Linked DNA regions of Homo sapiens. The protein of the gene in region 2 purifies or fractionates together with the protein of the main gene of each other region. This does not show direct contact. Each region holds a gene or a part of one and is shown on either strand. Other genes may lie near its edges. The genes, in order: SPDL1 and THUMPD2.

Region 1 (9,480 bases), on a different chromosome or scaffold from region 2:
GTAACCGATTAGGTGGGTGTTATTGTGCTTGTTTTTATAGATGATTAAACCAGAAATTAAATAACTTGTCCAAGTTCATGCAGCCAGTGAGTAGTGGAGGCGGGGTAAGAACTCAGGCAGTTTGATTCCCAGAGTTTCCTGTGTCCCAAATGCTTTGTGTGTGCTATATTTTTGAGAAGCAGGACAGGAAAAATGGTTGCAGCACCATGGTTTCTAGGTAGATTCTAGTTCCCATCACACTTCGCGTCTTAACTTGCGGGTAACCCTAAGCAAGTTACTTAAAACTTTCTATGCCTCAGCTTGCATGTGTAAAATGAGGGAAATACCTTCAACCTCTTGAAGTTGTTGAGAAGATTGAATAAGAATGTGTATAAAGCGGCCGGGTGCGGTGGCTCACGCCTGTAATCCCAGCTACTCGGGAGGCTGAGGCAGGAGAATGGCGTGAACCCGGGAAGCGGAGCTTGCAGTGAGCCGAGATTGCGCCACTGCAGTCCGCAGTCTGGCCTGGGCGACAGAGCGAGACTCCGTCTCAAAAAAAAAAAAAAGAATGTGTATAAAGCACCAAGCACAATGTCTGTCACACATTAGTAGTTTTTAATCAACCACGGCTATCTCTCTTTGTAGATTGATAGGTTAACTCTTTCTCATCCATTAGACCTCTGCTGAAAAGTTACTTCCTCAGGAAAATTTTTTTGTCCATGTTCCCTTCTACGCGCTGCCCCCCAGATTAGGACAGCTCCCCCTTGTTACAGGCTCAGGTAGCATACATCTGTCTCTCTTGCACTTATCATACTTGTAACTTGATAGTTCAATTACTTGATTTAATGTCTTTTACTAATAGACTAGGATTCAAGAAGACAGGAATATTGTTTTAGGTTGCCATTGTGTTGTCAACACTAGCACAATGTCTCACACAATAAGAATTCCAGCAAATTTTTTGAATAAACTAAAGCAAATTTTTTTTGGCTTCTCTGGATATGCCTGGCTGGAATGTCTTGAGGTTAACCCTATTTTTATTTTGGTAGTTGAGATGACAGTATTTACTTAACTCAAGCTCATCAAGATAATTAGATGAGATAATATATTTGAAGCAGTTAGCATGGCAAATGGTAAATCCTCAACGAATGTAAGTTATTGTGAACAGTACAACATTTAGTTGGCTGGCCGTATCATGTACAGGCTTTGAAAAGGTCTTGCATTTTAGAGCAGTGACTGCCAAGCTGGGATTACCTAGAACACCTTTTTTTCTCTCTTAAACCCTGTATCTCTTCCCTTGTCTTCATTCTCAGTTAAAGACCTTGCTTCCTAATTCATTGATAAATTGAAGCAGTTAAAAGGTTACTTACACAGACTTCCACCACTGTACCTGCTTATCAGCATCTAAACTCATATACTTTGCTTAAATGAAATATCCATGCTTCTATTAAAACCAGTCTCTACATTAAACTTCATCCTGTTTATTCAGGGACATCACTAGCAATTCTCCAGTGTCTTCTAGATCATCAGTTTTTCTTCTCTCCTGGATTTATCCCATGACCTACAAACACTGTTATTTTTTTCCATCTTAAAAATAAAAAAACTTGTCCCTACTTCCTCTCCAACTGCTGCTCCGTTTATCCGTTATCCTTTGCAGCAAACCTGTGCTTGCTATCTTTATCTCCTACCATTCTCTCTTGAAGGCATTCTAGTTAGGCTTTCACCCCCACCTGGATATCAAAACTGTTCTTGTCACCAGAGACCTCCAGGAATTCAAGTTCAATGGCCAGTTCTCTGCTCTCACCTTAATTGCCTTAGCAGCAGCATCTGGCATGATTGATTACTCCCACCTCCTTAATACACTGTTTATTGCCTTCCAGGACAACACATACTCCTGGTTTTCCTTCTACCTCACTGGTCACTCCTGATTCTCCGCTGTCTTCTTCCCTACCTCATAACAGGGTTCAGTCGTTGGTCCATTTCTCTTTAAATACTTTTATCCTCTATAGACTGATAATTCTCAAATTTGCATATCCAGCCAAGATTCCTCTTCTCATATATCCAATTGCCTACTTGACATAGTTCATGTTCAAAACTCAAATTCCTGATTTTATTTCCAAAACATTATTTACATCAGTGCTTCAGCTGATGGCAATTCCATTTTACTAGGTGCTCAGGCCAGAAGACTTGGAGGCATTTTTTACTTTTCCCTTTTTCACACATCCCAAATTATATCTTTCAGAAAATCATATTGACCTTACCTTCAAAACCTTCAAAATCTGGCCATTTCTCACAGCCTCCTATGCTGCCACCCTAGTCTGAGCCATTTCACATGGTCTCTGCTTCCAGCCTTGTTCCCCTTCTAAACTAGTCAACATAGCAGCCAAAATGATTCTTTTAAATTATATCAGATCCTCTACTCCAGACTTTGGAATGACTTCCCATGTCACCCAAAGTAGGAGCCAAAGTCCTTATAATGGCCTGATTTGCCCACTCTCTACTATCTCTTAGCCAAATTTCACTCCCTGGGCTTCTTCCTGCCTTAAGGATTCCCCTCTTGCTGGAACATTCTTCTTCTAAATAGCTGCCTGGCTGATTCTCTCATCTTCTGCCTCCTGGTTACATCACCTGTCCCTTCTTCCCAGATTCTTATTCTGTTCTATTTTTTCTCATCTCCCCTTTCTAATTTATTAATATTCTGTTACTTACTGTTTATCTTCCCCTCCTGGAATGTAAGTTTCATGAGGGAGGAGCTTTTTTTTCGTCCATTTTGTTCCCTAATGAATCTGAACTGCCCAGAATGGAACCTAGTATATAAGGCATTCAAGAAATACTCGTTCAGTGAATGACTACATTGACTTGAGACATGGGGGAACATCTTGCAATGACCTGGTGCCCTTTGAAGGCAAAGGTGAGTTTGAGTCTCGCTTAGGAGGCTGGGACCAAATAGTAAAGGATAATTAGTAAGGTTGATTAAAGTGGAATGTTTCTATATATAATGTTTAAGTCTTTGTTTATAAATCTAGAATGAAAGCAACATCCTTTAATTCTTATGGATATGGTTTCTATTTTTGCATACTTTTATGAATAACTAGAAAAATACTAGTGAATCTCTTTCCAGGAAAGCAGATTTAATATATTCAGGAAGTTAACACTGTTGTGAAAAATTACAGACATGATATTTCTTACTTTACCTTATGAGCCTTATTCACAGCTGCCTTTTTATATTTTATGTGTTTATAGTACCCAGACCTTCCTTTTCTGGTGGTATTATTGTTATTATCATTATTATTTCTCAAGACAGTGTCTTGCTCTGTCAGTGCCATGATCATAACTCACTGAAGCCTCTAACTCCATCAATTTTCCTTCCTTAGCCTCCCAAGTAGCTAGGACTACGGGGGCTTGCCACCATCCCCACCTTATTTCTATTGATTGATTGATTGAGATGGAGTCTTGCTATGTTGTTCAGGCTGGTCTCGAATTCCTGGCCTCAAGTAATCCTCCCCAGTTGCTGGGATTACAAGCATGAGCCACCATACCTGCTACTATGAGGTTTCTTGATTACTTTTTTGTTATTCCCTTAATTTTGATTATATGGATAGTGGTCCAATTATGAGACCAAACTTACCTTAACATATTGGAAGCTTAGCATACAACAACTGAACAGTTTTCTGATGGTGAACTGTTTAGAAGCAAAATTAAATGTATTCTATTCCACTCTTTAATTTTTGATCCCAAATCAGTAACAGAATTGTCAGAACAGTTCTTGCTCTTGGAACAAGAATGCAAATTTGACTACTTATTAGTCAGGAAGAAAATTTTAATGTTTTTATACGACAGTAGTATTGAGTAGATATGTTTCTTCTGTTATTGATATTATTGCATGGAGTTTTTTGTATAAGCTTAAGTAGTTTTATTTCCTCTATTTACAGTTGGCTAAAAAAAAGAAAAGAACATGGAGGCAGATATAATCACAAATCTTCGATGCAGGCTCAAAGAGGCTGAAGAAGAGCGACTAAAAGCTGCACAGTATGGTTTACAACTAGTAGAGAGTCAAAATGAATTACAGAATCAATTGGATAAATGTCGTAATGAAATGATGACCATGACTGAGGTAGGACTCTGGACTCCTCTGTCTGCAAGAGTGTGCTTAGCTATTGAAGATTTGTCCTGTTTAGCAATTAATAGTAGTAGTAGTTTATTCTTTTCTGAAGATTTTAGATCTAGTTCCCGCCCTGCCCCGTCCCTGTTAAAAAAGAATGAACTAAATGAATTCCTGTTATTCTTTCCACCCTAGTGTATTCAGAGTTTGAAAGATCAAGTTATCATTACTCTCTTTGCCACATTTACTACCAGATTTTGCTTTGTCTGCACACTTCCTAGAAGACCTCACTTGTTTTAGACCTCTAAACATCTAAGTGCCCCATGACACTACACCAAGCCCTTAGTTCCCCCATGAAATCTAGGTTTGTGTTCAACTGCCCACTAATAGACTTCTCAAACTTAACACAGACAGAAGAGTGGATTCCCTGTCCGTTAACCAAATATTCTTTTACGATTTTTTTTAGCTTATTTAGTAAATATAATAGCATTCAGTTTCTTGAACACCAAAAATCTTTATATACCAAAGATTTTTGGTATATTTTTGGTTTCTTTATATACCAAAAATCTAGAACTTTTAGTCAATATCTTCCCTTTATTTCTCACATTTCACTCATTAATAAGTTCTAAGAACTAGACTACAAAGCATGTATCTTTGCTACTGGCACTGTAGTCCAGATCACCATCATCACTCCTAGACAAGTATTGTAGCCTTCTGGCCGGGTTGCCTGCTTCCATTGTTGCCATTCATGCCATTCATTCTTCACTCAGCGTCTAAGTGGTCGTGGAATAACACACCAAAGGTCATGCCACAGCCCTGCTAAAAACCATACAACAGCTTCTGATTTTATTTACAACAAAATCTGAGCTCCATCCTTGGGTTTGTAGATCCCTATGTGACCTGACCCCTGCCAAGCTTCTGACCTCACCTCAAACTGCTTTGCCTTGTTCTTGACTATACTGGTCCTCCCTTATGGGCTTTACACCAGCTATTGCCTTTTTTTTTTTTTTGAGTTGTTTACCCCTCACTGCTCTTGGGTTGAGTCCTCAGATTTCAGCTTTCATTTAAATGTCACTTCAGCGGAGAGGTCAGCCCTTACTATGTAATGTAAAGTTGCCCTGATTCACTTTTTTTTTCTTTTTTCTTTTTTTTTTTTGAAACAGGGTCTCACTCTGTCGCCCAGGCTGGAGTGCAGTGGCGCAATCTTGGCTCACTGCATCCTCCACCTCCTGGGTTCAAGAGATTCTCCTACCTCAGCCTTCCGAGTAGCTCGGGGTTACAGATGTGTGCCACCACATCCGGCTAATTTTTGTGTTTTTAGTAGAGATGGGGTTTCACCATGTTGACCAGGCTGGTCTTGAACTCCTGGCTTCACGTAATCTGCCTGCCGAAGTGCTGGGATTACAGGCATGAGCCGTTGTGCCCGGCCCTGATTCCACTCTTAATTATCTGCATTGCTAATTATCTCTAGATTATAAACTCCATGAGAGAGGGAATTTTGTATGCCTTGTTCACTATCCTGAATGCCTGCCACACGATTATTTCTTAAAAGAATGAATGAATAAATCTGGGTAATTTAGCAAATGCTCAGTAACATATTTAAACTTGAATCTCAACATTGTAAATATGGCAGGTAAAAAATATCTGTAGCAGGTAAAAATAACTAGTGATGGCAACCTTTGTGTTTCTACATAGTACTGTTGTAAACCAAGAACTGAGTGCAAAGTCATAAAGGCAAAGTAAAGATTACAAATATCACTAATAGAAAATAAAACTGTTATACTTAATCATTTTGAGTCATAACTTGTCAAATTTCAGTGTTTAACAGTTAATACTCTTTGTCTTCCTTTAAAATAAAATGGTTTTTGAGGGGAATATTTTATCATTTTTTAAAGCCTCTTGAAGGAGTTCGTACTTGTAACATTTTTAATGTCTAAACTTCCCTGTGAGTAAGCAAAAGCCCTTTTAATTACTCCTTTTGTCTCAGCTCTGCATTCATTCTGATAGACCTTTTGTGACATTTCTCAGATGACTACATTCTGAAAGTAAAGGCTAATTCAGTATTTCTTTTTTTTCAACTATTATTACTACTACATTGTGTTCAGAGCTACAAGTAGAGCATCTCATTATCAAACTAATAATTCTCATGAGGAAAGCTTAAGTGCTGTTAAATCTTTTTTTGTTGTTAGCAGAGATTACTTGACTTGACGTGTTGACATACCATGGAGCACATTTTACTTCCTTGACAAGGCACAGAAGCAGTAAGGTATCCCTTGCATGGGTTTAACATAGTTTCGAAATACACCTCAGGGGTTTATTAAGACTGATTAACTACAAAGTTATTCCAGGTTTAACATGTCTTCGTTATTTGGAAAGCAGCAAATGCTTGAAATAAGAATGAAACAATTGAAGTTGAAAACTGATTGTATGTAATGGCTTTAGGCTATTTTTATGTAATTGAATTGTAATTGAATCTGTTTTCAGAGTTATGAACAAGAAAAATATACCCTTCAAAGAGAAGTTGAACTCAAGAGTCGAATGTTAGAAAGTTTGAGCTGCGAATGTGAAGCTATTAAACAACAACAAAAAATGCACCTGGAGAAATTGGAAGAACAACTAAGCAGAAGCCATGGACAGGAAGTGAATGAACTAAAAACTAAGGTTGGGATATCTGCGTATTTCAGCACAAAATATTCCATATTTATGCAGCCATCTGTAAACTTTAGATGATAAAGATTTTCTTAAGTGTCAGCTTTGCAAAATAGCCAAGATCTAAGTCTTCATTATCTTAATATTGGGGGTGGGAACACTGAGATACAAGAGTTTGTCTAAGGGACTTGTATAAATTATATCCTATTAATTAAATACAATTATTTAATTTTGGTTGCTGGATATTTGTGAAGGTTTAGTTTAGTGACTAGCATGGCCTCCTTGCTGATAGTGGGTACAGCAGCCCCTTGCAGAAAGCCTCGTCTCCTAGCCTTCCCTGCAGTCAGTGGTATGCTTTGTAATTCTGTAAAACAGACCAGTAGTTTCTTACTAGTTAATGTGCATTACAAATGACACTTTATAGTTTGTTTACTGAGGATAAACTAATACATGTGCTCCAGTTCTTACAATAATATTGTGGAAAGGTACCATTATCATTTCCATATACCAGATGAAAGAGCCAGTGTTTAGACAGACTGAGTAAATTGGACACAATTCAAGAACTAGAAATTCTCCATCTAGGTTTGAACTGAGGCTGTCTGACTCCAAAGGCTGTGTTACTGAATCACTACATAGTCTAACAGCATGTTACACTGGCTCCATTTCAAACATAAACGCAAGATAAATGATTGGTCAGTGGTTTTCCCTTTTCCCAGCTAGCCAGTGCTTTCAGGTTGCTTCTGAGGAATCCAGAACTTTTTATCATGGATCTGCTTTGTGTATAGTCTATACTCTGACTTTTCCAGACACTGTCTACCAAAACTTGCCTGACTTTTGTCCTCCTTTCTCAGAAGTCTGTTACCCAATTTTCAGCTTCTTGTATAGCAGCCTCTAAGATTTTTCTTTTTCTGTATACCACCTATACTATTACTTAATTTCTCATTGACTCTCTTTTAATGTTTACTGATTTTAAGAAACATCAATGAAAGTATTTTTTTTTCCTTTTTTTTTTTTTTTTTTTTGAGGCAGAGTCTCACACTGTCGCCCAGGCTGGAGTGCAGTGGCATGATCTCGGCTCACCTGCAACCTCTGCCTCCCGGGTTCAAACGATTCTCCTGCCTCAGGCTCCTAAGTGGCTGGGATTACAGGTGTGCGCCACCACGCCCAGCTAATTTTTGTATTTTAATAGAGACAGGGTTTCACCATGTTGGTCAGGCTGGTCTCTAACTCCTGACCTCGTGATCCGCCCACTTCAGCCTCGCAAAGTGCTGGGATTACAGGCCTGAGCCACTGCGCCTGGCCAAAATTACATATTTAAGCTTGCTTATTTTTTCCCAGTATACACTAAAACAAACATAGCTATCTAAATATACCTTCATGTAATATATAATCATCTTGCATACCACTCTGACAGATAATATCATCCAGCTTGTCTGAAACTAGTCGGATTTGAGGCCCTAATGACTGATAATGATGTGCTTTCTTCCCCCTCTGGTTGTTATTTTTATTTTTGCAATAGTTTTCATCACCTAAACAAAAAAGAGTAATAAAGGGAGTATTCAGGACTGAGGTAAGGCTAATTATAGAGATGGCTTTTTTTTTTTTTTTTTTTTTTGGTGGAGCAAAGAGTACATTAGTGAAATATTTTGTTTTACTGATTTTCTCAAATCACTTATGCCAAAATTTGGATTTTTTTAATACCTTTTCTTCTCTTATTTTTCACATTTAATTCATCAAGTTCTAAGAACTTGACCTACAAAACATCTATGACGCTACTGCCACTCCAATCCAGACCTTCATCATCTCTTTCCTGGACTACTGCTGTAGCCTTCTGACCAGGTTGCTTGCTTCCATTGTTTCTCTTCATGCCAGTCATTCTTCACACAGTAGCCAAGTGGTCCGCATCATAGTGCCTCCAGATTGCTTCTGAGGCATCCAGACCCACCCCGATTACTCATGGATTATTTCTATGTTTATTAAACAAGGTGTGTCACTAGCTGTTAAAAGATGCCTAACCTTGGGCAAATAGGAAACTCCAATAGTATCATCATTCAGTAAGTTTGGTTCAATCAGTTCAATCAGTGATTGTTTTTAGAAAGAAAATAACTTTCAATTTATGACTTTTTTTTTTTTGGCTTTAGATAGAAAAACTGAAAGTGGAATTAGATGAAGCCAGGCTTAGTGAAAAGCAGCTGAAGCACCAAGTAGATCATCAGAAGGAACTCCTCTCTTGTAAATCAGAGGAACTGCGCGTAATGTCTGAACGTGTGCAGGAAAGCATGTCTTCAGAGATGCTGGCTCTTCAAATTGAGCTGACAGAAATGGAGAGTATGAAGGTAATTTTTATGGCATGTGTTTCTCAGGGTTTTCTCTTTTTTTTTCTGGCATATTTTTACATGTTTTGGTAATAATTCTTAAGAGCTAGTTTGAAGGCTGAAACATTTTTTGACCTAACTTGCATCTAACTAATTAAAAAATGGGTTTTTTTTAGGTGGATGACTTCATTCATAATATAGCTTTAGACTATATGATTATGTAAGGCAGCCTTTCTCTTAGATTAATGAAACGTCTGGAAGAATTTAGAGGCATATACTCTGATCCCAGATTTTATCGTAAGAGCCCAGTGTAAAACGTTGGCTCAGTGGAAGTTGAAATGCATGTGAACTTGGTTTTTTCATTGAAAGCTAAGGTTAATTAAAAATTAAAGCCTGAAATTGATAGAGGAAAAAGGGCAGTCTCTAAAGCCATTTGTT
Region 2 (10,670 bases):
CTCCTCATTAGCCAAACTGCTCAAGAAAATGCTCTAAACTAGTTGTTTTCAAGTTACCTCCTCCCATTCTCTCAAGAGCCCCTCCAGGGAAGCTGCCCTTGACTTCTGCAGTCACCAGGCCTCATTGTACTCCACCAATGAGAAGCAGCTGACACAGCTGATCTATCTTTCTTCCCCGGATTTTTACTCTCTTACATCACCAGCTGTTCCTTTACCAGATGCTCACCTTCCAGAAGTCCAAGCATCTGAGTACTCCAAGGTTCAGTCCCCTTTCCCTTCTCTACTTACACTCATTCCCTAGGAGATCTCATGAAACTAAATGTTCTCTATACTGGTGATTCTCTATACTGGTGATCCCCTAAACTCCAGATTTGTATACTGAGGTACTAACTTGACATCTTCACTTAGAGTCTAATAATCGTGCGAAATTTAACAGGTCCTAAACTCTAACTTGATCCACCATCCGTCTTCCCCATCTCAGTAACGACAACTCAATCCTCTAGCTGCTCAAGCCAGAAAGCTTAGAATGTTCTCTCTCTCATAGTCCACATCCAATCTGACAACAAATTCTGTTGGCTCTGTCTGCCAGATGTATATCTGACCTTCTCTCGACATCTCCTTGAATACCACCTTGGGCCAGGCCACTGTCATTTCTTACCTGGATTATAACTAGAGTTGCAACAGTCTCTTTCTAGTCTCTCTGTTACTGTCCTTCCCTCACTAAAGTCTAAGAGGAATCCTTTCAAAACTAAGATTTATGCAGTTACCTGGTACCACAGAGAACCTTTAAAAAGCACACACACACAAACAGTGGAGCACTTCTGACTGTTTTTTAAATGAAATCTTTTAGAAAATGCCCCCTAAAGTGAAAATACATAAAAGTGAAGCTGGGAGTGCAACAGAGGTCCAATGGCCAACTCAGTACTCCCTCCTTCATGCCTACAAGGTGCTTTGGAGAATGTAAAGGGATTGAAAACTCACTGCTCTGGAACAATTTAGGAACCAATTTCAGTTTTCTTAAAGGTTTCAAAGAAATAGCATTCTTAAAGAAATTAGGGATCATGAAAGCTTGCAGTCTAGTCACCCCTTAGTTTGCTCTACAAACTTGTGTCTCCTGCACAGAGTCCTATTAAAAACCTTGGCAGAAAGGCTTAAAAATAAAAGTCACTGGCAGCAAACAACTATGAGATCTCAATCAACAAGACAATTTCTTCTTTGGGGATGCTTTATTATGCTTTTATGCAAGTTATCCTAGTATTTTCTTCTGTTGATACTCATCTTTACTACTTTTCCACTACAATAAAATTTCTTAAACGTATTTTATTCCTCCTGATTATAGGTCTGATACTGGGACCTATCTACTACCTATCACTGTCAACAGAATACAATGTTCTTACCTGGGAATTAAATTCACTCATTATTTAAGGGAGAGACATATACTGGGGGAATAAGAAAAAAACAAGGAATAGTTTTTAAAAATTGTCTAAACGCCAGGGATCTCAGGAAAATATTATTTTGATTGGCCTCAATAGACTTGATTCCTAGTTATGTGTGTCACTGCTGATTCCCCTTCATTAAACAGGGTACTGTTTTCCCTCTACCTCACAGGGTGGCCAACTGTCCTGGTTTACTCCAGACTTTGCTGATTTTAGCACTAAAAGTCCTGGTTTAGCAAATTGGGATGGGTGGTTAGCTTACTCCTGTGTATCTCACGGATACTGTCTAATGTGAGGCAAGACAGTAAGATAATTCAGAACATTTCATATTATTTATTCAAAAGAAATTCAAAGAATTATTATTACACTGCTTTCTTTATGGCTATTTTAAACGATCACTGGTTCTGATACGAGAAATGGTTCAGATGCAACACTTTTTTTTTCTTTTTTTAACAAACACATTTTAAGAAGTCATGCTTTACATGCTTACGAAAACTATAGAATTGTTGCTTCCCAATTATGAACACTTTGAAAATAAAAAGGTTAGACTATTAGAAGTAAACTGAGTATTAGTCCCACAGATATATTAAAGGGTAAAACCAACCTTTACATAGTGAGACTTGTTTTATATTATGATTCTAAATATATTTACATTGTTCCTTTTCTCAATTGTTTTGCATTTTTAGTATCTTACCTATAACAGAGATTTTAAGTAATTCAATTTTATCCTCAAGGCCTGCAGCTTTCAGATTGTCCCAAGTACCTAGTAACTGTGAGTCGCTGACATCAGCACCTACATAATACACATCCTATGGGGAAATAAATATTTTAAGCATAAATAAAATTATTACATATTTCATGTAGTTAAGAAAATCGACTTGCATTTTCTCAAATGACAAGTGAAATTAGTAGATTTTAAATTCAGGTCAAAACACATTTAGGGTATTCTTTTAAAATCATAGTAGCAAAAAATGTAAAGTTTTTGTTAAAATTTTAAAAATCTGTTAACATTTACAATGACAAGTGTCTAAAGAATTTGAGGATTAGTATAATCTAGGTCATGACTAATGATTAGAATTCTCTCATATTTTCCTAAATTTATCATAGTATTTAAAGAAACAACATAGCAATTTCATTAGTCCCTCATCATCTATTTTGAGTAAATAATAACTCATATAATTAAAAATAATCCCCAAATAGACATTCTACTTGTAAATAATTGGTGATTATACTACATATACTGATTAAAGTAGATAAATTGCTTGCTTTACCAAACTTTAGAACTTACTGGCCATTCTTTAGCAGCTTCCAAAAGTATTGTTCCAAGTCCACACATTGGATCTAAAACAAATGCACCAGCCTGCAGACAGAAATATTAATTTGGTATTATTAAGACTACCATAGTACGTACTATAAAAGAAACCTAAAACTTGAGGAATCAATATTTCAAGAGGAAAGATTACATTTTAAAGGGGTGGTGGCTGAAGGGACAGATGGGTTCAGGGGAGGGTTTTTATTTTTTTAAGTTGAAAGATATTTCAGCAGGTGTACATGCTGATGGGGATGACCCAGTAGAAGGAAAAATCCCTAAGTCTACAAGAGGCAATGGAATCCAGCACACAAGTATTAGTGTGGAACAAGGACAGCTCCCTTATTGTAATGACAATAAGGCAGAGTATGTGGGCATAGATTCTGGTATGCTGGTAGACTTGGTGAGGAGAACATGCAGAAGTTCTCTTGTGATTCTATTATTTAAGTCAAATAAGAAGGAAGAGAGCCTGAGAATGGCGTGAACCTGGGAGGCAGAGCTTGCAATGAGCAGAGATCGCGCCCCTGCACTCCAGCCTGGGCGACAGAGCGAGACTCCATCTCAAAAAAAAAAAAAAAATGGCAAGGAAATGACTATAATGATCGAACTTTTTAAAATACAAGCTGTGAAGGAGGGATGAGCACAGGTGGTAAGGAACACGGGTCTGGTCAAATGACTGGAGGGCCCCGTGGGGTTAAAGATTTGTGTTCGGGTAGCAGAGGAAGTGAACAGGAAAGAGGAGGTGGTTAAGAACAAGATTCCTGAATACAAATTATCAATACCAAGCCGATGCCACGTGTAAATTCAAGCTTTGGCTTGACAATTATACGGTAACAATCACAAGAAGACAAGCATCTGTGGTGCGGAGGCAAGCAGGCTAACTAGAAGTTGACATGCTAAGAAAGTGAAACTGTTCTTTCTTAGTTAATGGTCTTTCTCCGGAGCTCTGTTACTCTGAGTATAATATTTCCATGACACTTAGTAAATGCAAGCTAAAATGTAATAATAATAATAATAATAATAATAATAAATGGTATTGGAGAAAAAAAAAAAGAAACTGAGATTTTTGGAAGAGATACCCTTCTGGGTATGACAAGGTCTAGGATGTGACTACAGCAGATGAATAGGGAAGCCAAGAAATGAAGAGGCAGGTTACTGAGTGGTTAGAGACCAAAGAATCATGACGGGATAATGGTCTGTACTCTTACAGGAATGAGAGGGAGAGAACTCTGACTGGGGTGATCTGATGGCATGTGCTTCAAAGGCACTATGAGGTTCTGGGCAGACGGGAGAAAACAATTGTCTAGAAGGGGCAAGGAGGAGCAAGCAGGAACGTACCCCACTGTCAGGCCCAGTCGTGCTCGAGATAGGGGAGAAAAGACATCCACCACTTGATATGTCTACAGAGGAAGCAGAGTCCTCAGTGCACAGCCAGGTTTCAGTCAGAGCCATATGGTACCTAATGGAAAGAAACAAAATGTTCTTCAAGAGACAGAAGCCTTCCCCTGGTACTAAATTTTAAAGAGAATATCACACAAATCCCCCATGAAGGGGCAGTAAGGAGCAGAAGGAAAAATTTAAATGCAAATTTTGTTGAAAATTGTTAATAGCATGAGAACCCATTTTTATTAGGATCTCAAATGTGCCATACGCTGTGCTCCTTCTCTCCCATGGTCTGTGTTCAATGACATAATCTGACCTGAAGTATCTTTAGATGGCTTTACTTTACCTTAGGACCTTTTCTTGCCATGACACTTGTAGACACAGGCTGAGGTAGAGATGTATTTCTGTATACTTACAACAACAATTAAGATTTATAGAACTTGATTTTCCTTGTTATGATATGTAGGAAGGAGAACAGTTTATAGTAAACATGATAAATAACAAACATCCCATTTTTAAATTTCATTTTTAGTGGCACTGGCCTTACCCAAGGCTGAGCTGTCTGTGTACTGCTCTGGGTACCAAGCTCCAAAGAGGGAAATGGATCAGGTTGGATACTGGGGTCACTTAGATTGTGGGTCACTACCACATTCCCTCCAAAAGAACTCTACTATGCCATTTCCTAGGTTCTTTAACAGACCTCCTTTGCCAGTGGTCACATTTGGAGAGACATTTCTTACTTTTTGTAGTCCCAGGGCAAATACACAGTAAGGAAAAGTTTTATCAAGCATTATCTTTGTATATTTTTGATCATTTACTTTTGACTTTTCTGAAAAACATGTTTATATTAAAACAAAGGTAACATTTCAAATGTGTAGGTGATTATATAAATTTATATTTAAATACAAACTCTGGTGAAACCACTGGCAGTTTGGGAAAAAATTAACCATACCTCTTTCTTTATACTAAAAAAATCTGAACTAAACATTTAAATCAAACAAAAAAAGAGAAAATCATGGGTTCTGGGTACCTGGTAATCTGAAAGAGGCTCCCTCCTCCACTCTCAACTCTAAGCTTTTTGCTTCTGCTGAGCCAAGTGATGCTCAGACCTAGAGGCAACTGGCGCTAAGAGAAGCCCTAGGCTCTGTCACAGTCCCAGAAAAAGGAACATGTGTGGGGCCTCCCTGCTGTGGGTTGGGTAGTGATTAGAGAACAGCAGTGGAACCCAGAGGGGAGAATCAGTGGAATTAGGGAAGAGCTTGGTCTTCAGAGATCTATGGACTCAAAGAGAGGTCAGTGAATAGAGAAGCTTCCTCCAGGTATCTCAGCAGGACTGACAGATTCTCTTTACACTGCTGAGCCTGGGGTGCCAGAGATCCATTTGCCTTTTACCATTTATAGGATTCTGGCCATTTAAAATACTTAACAGTCACATTTTAGTCCTAGTGAGCTAAAACAAAACACAAAAACAAACAAAAACCAATGGCACATCTAAAAAAAAAAAAAAAGGAGGAGGTCCCTCAGTAGTTTTAGAGTAAATAGGCAGAATAATCGGAACACACACCCAGTAAAATAGAATTACTAATTACTGGAGAACACAGATCAATATTTGAATAAAAGAAGAGCTTTCAGAGATACTCAAATGTGACACACATACCTTTTGAAGCTAAAAAGTCAGGATTTTTTTAAGCTAAAAATATAAATAAATTAAAATAGAGCATGTCTCTGTGACTCTTGTAATTTGGAAGATAATGTTCAAGAATAACTAAAAATGCAGGGCCAAAATATAAAGAGAGGGAAATCATGTCAAAAGGATAGGAGACTTGGAGGATAGAGCCAGGAAGCTTAACATGTTCATAATAGGAATTTCAGAAGTAGGAAAAAGAGAGTAGTTTAAAGTTAAATTCACTAAATAGTTGAGGCAATAATTAAATAATGGAAGAAAAAGTGCTTAGGCCGGAGAAGTAAAAATAAATAATAATTTTTATAATTATATATTTGAAATAGTAATTATAGTTCTAGTTATTAACTACAATTTTGGTATAATTATTTATTATTACCAAAATGGCAGCTAATACTTAGACACTTTCTGTATGTTAGGCACTGTTCTAATCATTTTATTAATGCTAATTCATTTAATCTTGTCATGATCCCATGAGATATTACTACTCTTTTCATCTTGCAAATGAGAAACTGAGGCACAAAGATCTTAAGTATTCCGCCCAAAGCTTCCCACCCAGAAAGTGATGGCCAGAATCTAAGACTCAACAAGGTCTGGGCTAAATAGAAAAGACATATACATAAGCATGTTCTGGTGACATTCCTTGGCTTTAAGATTAAAGAGAAACACCTTACAAGTTTCCAAAAAGAAGGAACAAAGTAGTTATAAAGGAAAAGAAAAAATCCCACTGGCATGGTCTGCTCATCTGTGTCACCGGAAGCTAAATGACAATGGAACAGCATCTACAGACCTCTGAGAGAAAAGAACTGCAATTCAGGAATCCTATACCCAGCCAAGATAGAGATACCCAGGATAACAGGAAGAAATTTGAAGATACAAAGAATTCAGACAGTATATCGTTTAAATACCACATTTGAGGAAAATACCTAAGACAAGACTTTACCCAAGCAATAAGTAAACCAGAGCAGAGGCCTCAAACAGGGCAAGACAAAGAGAAGAAGAGAAATGGCAAAAAGCAATAAACCTTGTAATGTATCTTAGTGTGTGTGTATATAAAAATATGTGTGTATTACGTGGAATTCTATCTAATGACTAAGAATAGGCTGTGTAAGTGCTAAGAACTTTTGAAACCCAAGAGCATACTCAAGGAAAGTTCTGGTACATAATAAATAACTTAGCTTCTCCAGTAGTTGGGGCTTGGGAGAGAAAGGGGTAAAAATGTTCAAAGGTCTCACTGTAGAGAGGAGAAGAGAAAAAAGTACTCTAAAGGTCTCATCTTATGACAGGGAAGAGGGGGAAGTTGGGGAAAATTGGAGTGCCTTGGTAAAAACGGTGTGTCTTGGCAGAGGGAGTAGTTGATGTTCTGTTTTAAATTAAGAGTAGAGTCATATATATTTAGTTAAGAGAGCTGGGAAAAGGACTGTAATGGAATAGAACAATGAAGTAAAATCTCTAACCACAAAGAGAACAATGAAATGATTAGCAAGTAACTTGGTCAAACTAGCGAAAATAAGAGAAGGAAACAAAGTGTGAGAAGTTATGAACAGAATAAAAACAGGAAGAATATAATCAAGTCTATCTGTCACAACATTTACTGAATTCTCTCACTGAAAGAGAGACCATCAGAGTGGAGTAAAAATAGCTATGTGTTTGTAAAAAATATGTAAAGTTGAAAAAAAAGCAGTGGCAAAGAAATACTAGGCTGATGCAAACAAAAAGGAGTGAAAATATTAGTAAGACAGTGAGACTTAAATTTAAACTTAACCAAGATAAAGAGGACTTAAGTAACAAAAAGGCACACTTCACAATGATGTATTGATAGTCATGAACATGTATATACCAAGCCACATGACAGCTGAATAATTCAACAACTCATAAAAATGCAAAAACTTAAAAAAATACAATATGAGATTTCAAAAACTTCTTTCAAAATGGAGCAGTGAAACACACAGTAAGTAAAAATAATGGAGAACATTTCTTCACTAGAAGATAAAGTCATCTTATGTCCATAGAACATTTACAAAAATTGACCAAGATCTTGGTCACAGACAAAAACTTTAAGAATAGGAGGTTTTACAGGCCACATTTTCTAACTGTGACACAAAACATTAGAAATAATGAAATGTAGCTAACTTTTGACTCAGCTTTTTCAGAGCCAAAATACTCTCAGAAGTTCAATAATATATAAAAGCATTACTGCAGCAGTTTGTAAGTACAATGGCAAAAAGAAAAGAAGTTAAAGAAAAAGCGTCAAGAAAAGAAAAAGCAAGTAACATAAATATCCATCAATAAGAGACTGTATAAGTTAATTATGAAAAGAACCTTGCTATTAACAGGAAGGAAAACATTTTTCTTACCTTAATGTCAGCCAGAGATGCCATTGCCCACGCTATTGTAGATCGCAGTCCAGCTGTCTTGATGTAAGCTCTGCTGGCTAGGGAAACCCTACAAAGGATAGAATCTGATTATATATTATTACACATTGAACAACAAGATATAAAAATGATTTACCTGTCCAAATCTGAGAATCATTTAAACATATTCATCCAACATACACTAAAGTATTCCCTAAGTTAGACAATGTTTCAGTCTTATTACAAAAATTGCTTCTCTAATGGGCACCTTGTCTACCCAGCCAGTGTTGAATTTCAGAAAGGTAAATTTTTAGACAACTGAAATTTACACTCTCACGTATTTAATGTATAAAAATGTAATTACACATGAGGAAAATCTTTCTTATACTTCCCTGTCTTCCCATACAGAGTAGACCTTTTTTTGCTATTTGAAGTCATGAAGGGGAATGTACTATTTTGTGATATAAATGTAGTATGGGAAGTAGAACTGAAGGGATGCTAACCCTTAAAATCTGTTTTCTATAAAAAGTCCCTTTTGTAGGTTTGTTTTTTGGTTATTTGCATCTTTCCCAAAAGATGAAATGAAGCATGACATTGCATTGTCTAAAATAATTTACTGGATGATGGGCCAAAGCAGACATCTCCCAAATGAGTTCACTGGTCTCCAAAAAGCATCAGTTCACACTTTATCCTCCACCTCATCAATGCCACTATCACATCAATGTTTCCAGATTTGATAGAAATTTTCAAAATGTCATCTATTATTTCTGTCTTTCTAATGCAATGAACAAGCAGAATCTCCTTGGAAATTACAACTTTCCAAGCTTTTCTAGTTCACTTCTACAATTTGTTGGTAAGGTACGAAGACATGATGTCAAGAATTTGTGTGGGTTTGTCTTGGGGTTGGCTTCTTCCAAAACCAGCAAAAGAGGTCTTCTACGAACATTACGGAAAGCCATGATTTTCTTCAAACCCTCCTTAAGGTTGTTCAACAGAATTCTAGGTATGTGAATATTAAACATTTCTTTCTTTCACCATTTTGCCTCTCATCTTTCTTTGACTTTAACTTATCCTGTTTTTGTATTTATTGCAAGCCTCTTAAAATCTTAGAACTAAATGATATACCCCTTTAAAATAAAACAGTGTAATTGTATACTTGCTATTATAATGAGGAAGTTCTACATGGCAAACCCATGGGAGTTTGGCTTTTTAATAAAGTTTTTTCAAGAAACAACAATTCACATTGTAAACAGTACTGTATATATACATTTGGAATGAGGGATGTAAACTGGCAGGTAGAAACACTATAAAATATTTTGGCCAGTGAATTTTGCTTCTACGGGGTAAGCTTAGCAATTATCTTGCTATAAAACAGTTTGCACTCTAGATACCAAAGTTATAAAACACAGTTTGCATTCTAGATGCCAAAACTATAAAACAGAGTTTGCATTCTAGATACCAAAAAGGGAGACGCAGTATGGGAAACCAGCTTTGTCCATATATATGAAAAAATGCTCTTCTAAGCAGCAGGAATTTATATGGAACCTTTCAAAGTTTCAAAAACTATGTATATATTTCTGCTAATAGAAGTTTTTGTGGGACATAATTCTATTAATATTTGACAAAAGTGAATGTTCACATTTTGCTTAAACCTGGGCAAAATTATCTCATTACTTCAACAAAAGGGCCCCATTATATCAGTATAACAAAATTATTCAGAAGAAGGCACGTTCAGAAATAAACTCCTTGAAAATAAAAATAATGCTTTACTTTCAGAGAACCTAGCTAATGTACACGGTTCAAAAATAAATGTGGTTTTTGATCCTCTTCTCTGCATGTGTGCATTTTTTTTTCTCTTGTACACCTTGTACCACCAAGACAAAGACGTCCTAATCTATATCTCTAGCCTAGACTTGTTACCTGAACCCCAGATCTTTATCTTCAAATATGTGCTTGAACATTTTTATGTGGAAGATAAGTAGTGCAAAGTCAACAGGTATAAACTGAATACACTATCCTGGATTTCATATATTGATACATTTCTTCATTTTCTTGTGCCACGTACTATCCATATATTGGGTACCATACTCTACCTCTTCAGTCTACACTTGTCACCTGAACTCTAGATCTGTAACTTCAAATATCTACTTGGACATTTTTCACTGAATACACTGTTTTCTTTCCCTACATTTTGTATCTCAGTGACTAATACCAGTATTTACTAATTGTTCAAATCAGAAATCTGAAATTATTCTAGACTCCTTAACTATTTTTTGATTTCATGGCCTTTTTGTTACCTCCAAGAGTTTAAATCCTCTCCTTCTCTCTTTTTATTTCCCTTTCATTTAAAAATATAATTTTCTTGGTAATTTTTTTGAAATCACAAATCTGATCACATCACTCTTCTGCTTCAAATTCTTATTGCTTTAAGGATAACATCCAAGCTGTTTAACATATTTACAAGGCACTTCATGGCTTGTTTCTAATTTTCTACCACTTTCTCTATG

What was found.
Region 1: the proteins of THUMPD2 (region 2) and SPDL1 purify together in Homo sapiens (affinity purification with mass spectrometry; 2 studies listed by BioGRID and IntAct, with this or other methods). This does not show direct contact.

The regions. Positions count from the first base shown.
Region 1 is NC_000005.10:169,584,486-169,593,965, forward strand, and holds part of SPDL1 (protein Spindly), read left to right. Parts: intron 1-2,713; exon of another isoform or gene 2,714-2,887; intron 2,888-3,887; exon of another isoform or gene 3,888-3,908; 5' UTR 3,909-3,931; coding exon 3,932-4,090; intron 4,091-4,113; exon of another isoform or gene 4,114-6,344; intron 6,345-6,562; coding exon 6,563-6,739; intron 6,740-8,868; coding exon 8,869-9,063; intron 9,064-9,480. UniProt on the Homo sapiens protein: Required for the localization of dynein and dynactin to the mitotic kintochore.
Region 2 is NC_000002.12:39,753,165-39,763,834, forward strand, and holds part of THUMPD2 (U6 snRNA (guanine-N(2))-methyltransferase THUMPD2), read right to left. Parts: intron 8,255-10,670; coding exon 8,167-8,254; intron 4,205-8,166; exon of another isoform or gene 4,084-4,204; intron 2,797-4,083; coding exon 2,725-2,796; intron 2,246-2,724; coding exon 2,131-2,245; exon of another isoform or gene 1-2,130. UniProt on the Homo sapiens protein: Catalytic subunit of the THUMPD2-TRM112 methyltransferase complex, that specifically mediates the S-adenosyl-L-methionine-dependent N(2)-methylation of guanosine nucleotides, most probably at position 72 (m2G72), in the U6snRNA of the major spliceosome.